2 linked regions of the Homo sapiens genome follow. The protein of the gene in region 1 interacts with the protein of each later gene in a pairwise test. Each region holds a gene or a part of one and is shown in the gene's direction. Other genes may lie near its edges. The genes, in order: MAP1S and KCNJ6.

The links.
Region 2: the proteins of MAP1S (region 1) and KCNJ6 interact in a two-hybrid assay, tested with the Homo sapiens proteins (one large-scale study listed by BioGRID and IntAct).

What each region holds. Positions count from the first base shown.
Region 1 is NC_000019.10:17,732,156-17,735,247, forward strand, and holds the end of MAP1S (microtubule-associated protein 1S), read left to right. Parts: intron 1-1,037; coding exon 1,038-1,273; intron 1,274-2,111; exon of another isoform or gene 2,112-2,117; coding exon 2,118-2,273; 3' UTR 2,274-2,358; downstream 2,359-3,092. UniProt on the Homo sapiens protein: Microtubule-associated protein that mediates aggregation of mitochondria resulting in cell death and genomic destruction (MAGD). Plays a role in anchoring the microtubule organizing center to the centrosomes. Binds to DNA. Plays a role in apoptosis.
Region 2 is NC_000021.9:37,609,541-37,612,657, reverse strand, and holds part of KCNJ6 (G protein-activated inward rectifier potassium channel 2), read left to right. Parts: 3' UTR 1-3,117. UniProt on the Homo sapiens protein: Inward rectifier potassium channels are characterized by a greater tendency to allow potassium to flow into the cell rather than out of it.

The sequences.
Region 1 (3,092 bases):
GGCTTCCCCAGGGCTTTTCTTTGTTGGGAGGTCGTAAGTTACTGATTCATTCTCCTTGCTAGCTACAGGTATGTGCTGATTTTCTATTTTTGTGATTGTGTCTTGGTAGTTTTTGTGTTTCTAGGAATGTGTCCATTTCGGCTGAGGGTATGCATTTGTTGGTATACAGACGGGGTAGTACTCTTACCCCCTGAGCTGGGCAGCAGCTGTGATTGTAAGATGCAGGGTCTGGCAGGCTTCTTGTGCCCGAGACCCAGCCGTATCCTTTCATTTCATTGATCATTCACTTGCCCAGGGCTGGTGGCCTTGTCCCCTTTGGCCCTAAGGTCAGGGTTTGGACAAGGCCCCCAGAGCTGCTGTCTCATCCGCATCCAGCATCCCGCAGTGATCTTGGGCCCGCCTCTCAAGGCTCTGTCCACCCACCCTGGCTCCCCATCACCCTTGGGGCAGGGATTCTGTCTGTCTTGGTCACAGCCCTGTTTCAGGGCCTGGTGCCCATGAGGTTCTGTTAAATGCCCCTTGAGCAAGTGAACCAGACAAATGCTGCAGAAGCAGCAGATGGTCCAGGCACTGGCTGCTTTCAGGGCTCAAACTCTTAAACCCTCTTCCAGGAAGCATTCCCTGATTGCCACCCACTCGCCCCCCAGCCCTGGGGATGTCTATGTCCAGGGACTGGCTGGGGATGAGTCAGGCTCTAGGCACAAAGGGGTGGCCGGTGGTGTTTGTAGAGTGAGTGAAGAGTCACTGGAGTCAAGGCGTGGTGACATGCACCTGTAGTCCCATCTACTTGGAAGGCTGAGGCAGGAGGATCACTTGAGCCCAGGAGTTTGTGACGAGCCTGGGCAGCATAGCGAGACCCCATTTCTTAAAATAAGATTCACTGGAGTCATGAGCGCACCAGGCCTCCCCAGAAAACTCTGAGTTCAGGCCTCCTGCTGAGGAGGGAGCTGCTCTGAGTGGTGCAGGTCGAACTTGGAGCCTCGGCCCCTCCCCAGCCCCAGGAGCTCATCCCTGCCTCCCCATCCCCCCGCCCGCAGGGTCAGCCAGCAGCCGGCCCGGGGTGTCAGCCACCCCACCCAAGTCCCCGGTCTACCTGGACCTGGCCTACCTGCCCAGCGGGAGCAGCGCCCACCTGGTGGATGAGGAGTTCTTCCAGCGCGTGCGCGCGCTCTGCTACGTCATCAGTGGCCAGGACCAGCGCAAGGAGGAAGGCATGCGGGCCGTCCTGGACGCGCTACTGGCCAGCAAGCAGCATTGGGACCGTGACCTGCAGGTGCGTGTCACCCCAGGGCCTCTGGTGGTAAGTGTAGTTAGCACAGATGGGTAAAACCACCCTCGACCCTCAGAGACTAAGCTGTGTTCCCCAGGCCACACGGGAATGGGGGCGAATGTGGGAGTCTCACATGGCTCAGCCCTTAGGGGTCTCTTCGGACTCTGATTCTGTCGTGTCACTGTTGTCATTGGCTGTGCTGGAAGCCTGGGGGAGGACGCAGGGCCTCGTGAAGCCTCATGGTTCTATCCCTTCCCCAGACACCTTGTCACTTAGCCATTGTTCCGCTGTGAGAATTAGTCGGGATGGAATAGGTGGGCTGGGTGGTATCTGTGCGGCTGAGAACCCTCCCCCATGGCTGCATGAAGCTGAGAGACTGAAACCAAGCCCTGCAGGGCGAGGTGCATGTGGGCAGAGGGAGGACCGCCTCACACCGCGGCCCCTGCCCTCTCATAGCTGCTAGGCTGGCTTCAAAGGAGTGTCCCTGTAGGGTGCACGACCCAGGAAAAGGCCCAGAGGTAGGAAAGAGGTTGGTGTGTTCAAGGAGCAGGGGGAGATCCAAGTGAGTAGAGAGGGGTCTCAGGCCAAGGAAGGCCTTGCAGAGGAGGAGCTCCGTCTCCTGTGTGCTGAGAAGGCTCTTTGGGTGCTGGTTGGGAGGAACAGGGACCTCACAGACGGGCTGACCACCCATTGCAGACCTCAAGGTGGAGCACACAAGATCAGGGAAAAGCCAGGAGGGGTCTCAAATGCCAGGAAAGGAAGGCGACTTGGGCCCAGGCCAGAAGGGCAGGGGGCACCCCCCTCACTGGTGGTCCACTCTCCCCACACACCCCCCCTCCACCTGCAGGTGACCCTGATCCCCACTTTCGACTCGGTGGCCATGCATACGTGGTACGCAGAGACGCACGCCCGGCACCAGGCGCTGGGCATCACGGTGTTGGGCAGCAACAGCATGGTGTCCATGCAGGATGACGCCTTCCCGGCCTGCAAGGTGGAGTTCTAGCCCCATCGCCGACACGCCCCCCACTCAGCCCAGCCCGCCTGTCCCTAGATTCAGCCACATCAGAAATAAACTGTGACTACACTTGGCTGTGGCCTCTCTTCTTTCTGTGATGGGAGACTTGGCATGTACCTCCTGGTCCTGCGGGTGGGGACAGCTTCCATGGAATCCCCAGTGACCCTGCGGTCAGGCCCACTCTGGCCTCCATGTCGCAGATGGGAGAAATGCAGGCTTCGCTGGGCCTGGTTTGGGGAAGGAAGTGCCTCTCAGAGTTAATGACCACTGACCGGTGGAGCTCCTGACTATGGCCTCCATCCCGACTCAGCAACTGTGAGGGGCCCAAGTTATAGGCGCGAAGTAGCTACCTGACTATCTGTCACACAAACCAGTTGGTGGCAGGGGGAGATTGAATACCTGTCTCTGCTCCAAAGCCATCAAACAAAAGCTATCCTGCTGTCCCTAGAGGAGATGGATGCTTATTCCAGAAAGTCTTACTCTGCAGGAAGGATTTACAGAGGAATCTGAAACCCAGAGATTACAGAATATCCACTTCTGACTAATGCACCCTGACCCCTCTCTGCAGAAATACAAGCACTTAGGTTTACTATTAGATACAATGTCATCTGTACTGGGTTGAATGGCAGCCAGCCCCCAAAACACATTCAACACCTGACCCCTGACACCTGTGAATGTGATGTTATTTTGAAAAAGGATCTTTGCAGATACAGTTTTATTATTTTTTGAGATGGAGTCTTGCTCTGTCACCCACGCTGGAGTGCAGTGGGGCGATCTTGGCTCACTGCAACCCCCGCCTCCTAGATT
Region 2 (3,117 bases), on another chromosome or scaffold:
GTTTTGCCTGTGCTCCTTTGCCAAGGATCAGTTAACTATATTTGTGTGGGTCTGTTTCTCAGCTCTCCATTCTGTTCCACTGATCTATTTGTCTATTCCTTCACCAACACCACATCGTCTTGAGTACTGTAGCTTTCTTTCTCCATATAAACTGCAGACTCAGTTTTTTGGTACCAACAAAATAACTTGCTGAGATTTTTATTGGGATTGTATTTAATCTACAGAGGAAGCTGGGAAGTGACATCTTGACAATATTGAGTCCCTCCATGAAATGGAATATCTCTGTATTTACTTAGTTCTTCTTTGATATCATTCACCAGTTTTGTAGTTTTCCTCATGTAGATCTTATACATATTGTTAGATTTATACCTTAAGTACTTCATTTCAAGGGATACTAATTTAAATAATCATGTGCTTTTAATTTCAAATTTCACTTATTCATTGCCGGTATATAGGAAAACAATTGACTTTGTATATTAACTTTGAATCCTAAAATCTTGCTATAATCCCTTATTAGTTCCAGGAAGGTTCTGGGGCTTGTTTTTGTTTTGTTTTTTGGTCAGTTATTTCAGATTTTCTACATAGATGATCATGTCATCTGTAAACAAAGACAAAGTTTTATTTCTTCTTTCTTCCCAATCTATATATTTTTATTTCCTTTCCTTGTCTTATTGCATCAGCCAGGACTTCCAGTATCATGTTGAAAAGCAGTAGTGATGGGGACACCTTTTTTTTCCTGATCTTAGTGAGACAGCTTCAGGTTTCTCACCATCACGCCATTTAGTATGATGTTAGCTGTAAGGTTTTTTTTTTAGATATTGTTTATCAGGTTGAGGGGCTTCTCCTCTATTCCTGCTTTACTGAGTGTTTTTATCATGAAAGACTGTTTGGATTTTTCTGCATCTGTTGATATGATCATGCAATTTTTCTTCTTTTGCCTGTTGATATTCATTACATTAGTTGATCTTTGAATGTTGAACCAGCCTTATATACCTAGGACAAATTCCACCTGGTCATGGTGTTTAATTATTTTCATATATTGTTGGACTTGATTTGCTAATATTTTGTTGAGGATTTCTGCATCTATGCTTATGACAGGTATTGGTCTGTAGTTTTCTTGTAATGTCTTTGTCTGGTTTTGGTATTAAGGTGATGCTGGATTCATAGAATGAGTTAGCAAGTGTTCTCTCTGCTTCTAGCTTTTGAAAGAGATTGTAGATAATCAGTATCATTTCTTCCTTAAGTCTTTGGTAGAATTCACCAGTGAACCCATCTGGGCCAAGTGCTTTCTGGTTGGGGAGGTTACTAACCATTGATTCAAATTATTTAACAGAGATATACCTATTCAGATTGTCTATTTGCTCTTGTGTGAGTTTTGACAAATTCTATTTTTCAAGGAATTGGTTCATTTCATCTACATTATCAAATTTGTGGGTATAAAGTCATTCATAAAATTCCTTCATTATCTTTTATTATCCTTTTAACCTCCATGGGATTGCTAGTAACGTCCCCGCTCTCATTTCTGATAGTAGTAATTTGTGTTCTTTCTCTTTTTTTCTTAGTTAGCATGCCTTGAGACTTATGGAGCTTATTGATCTTTTCAAAGAATCAACTTTGTTTCTATTTATTTTATTGATTTCCTATTTTCAATTTCGTGAATTTTTAATCTAATTTTAATTATTTCTTCTCATTGGCTTACTTTGGGTTTAATTTGCTCTTTTTTTCTACTTTTTTAAAATGGAAACTTAAATGATTGATTTCAGATCTTCTTTTGTGCTATCTGCATTCAATGTTATAAATTTCCCTTTAAGCATTGTTTTTATTGCATCCCACAAATTATAATAAGCTATGTTTTTATTTTCATTTATTTCAAAATATTTTTTCACTTATCTTGAGATTTCTTCTTTGACCCATGATATTTACACGTGTGTTGTTTAATCTCCAAGTATTTTGGCATTTTCCAGCTACCTTTCTGTTACTGATTTCTAGCTTAATTCCATTGTTATCTAAGAGCAAACATTGTAGGACTTGTATTCCTTTTTTTTTTTTTTTTTTTTTTAAGACAGAGTCTCACTCTGTTGCCCAGGCTGGAGTAGAGTGGCATGATCTTGGCTCACTGCAACCTCTGCCTCCGGGGTTCAAGCGATTCTCCTGCCTCAGCCTCCCAAGTAGTTGGGACTACAGGTGCCCACCACCAAACCTGGCTAATTTTTGTATTTTTAATAGAGATGGGGTTTCAGCATGTTGGCCAGGCTGGTCTTGAACTCCTGATCCCAAGTGATCTGAGAATTTCTATTCTTTTAAATGTGTTAAGGTATGTTTTATGACCCAGAATGCAGTCTAACTTGATGAACATTCCATGCAAGCTTAAGCAAAAAGACTAATCTGCTGTAGTTTCCTCATCTTTTTCAACAAACATTTGAACCCCATAGTCTCTGCTTTAATAATTCTAGTATCCATTCCAACCTACACCACCATCAGTTCTAGACTGTACCTCTACACTAAATGACCCCAGATGGTTCAGCTTTAAGTCTCAGCTGTTTTCATCATTTAACTGATTCCCTTGCTGGCAGCAGGGAAATTAACTACCAGCCACACACTTGTCTCCAACAGCACCCACCGACCACGTCCTGCTCCCCTGTCATTACCACCACTAAACCCGGTAGCAGAGAGATGAGCTGTGAGGTAGGTGCCTTCTAGATAAATGAGGTGCTACTGGACATGCACTGTGGTCTTCTCTGCAGTAGAAAAATGTCCAAGGAAGGTCAGCATCATTGATAGAAAATAAATGTGAGGCTGCATCTCGCCAGCTCATCCATGAGCAATTCCTTCAGCTCCAGCAGGCTACTGACAATTTGCTTTTAACCCAAATCCAGCTCTACCCTCCCTAAAGCATGCACCTAGGGCCCCAGTCAGAAAAACAAAACAAAAACTAAACCAGACAGGATAATTAAGGAGGCAAAAAGCTTAAACCATAATATTTTAATTAAGCTGATTTATTTTAACCGTAGCACTACTGCTTTATTTTAGTTATATACCAGTAATGGAAAATAGTGGCCACTTTTCATTATTAATCATAAGATAATTCATTGTATTTGTCTTTCCTAATAAAATGGC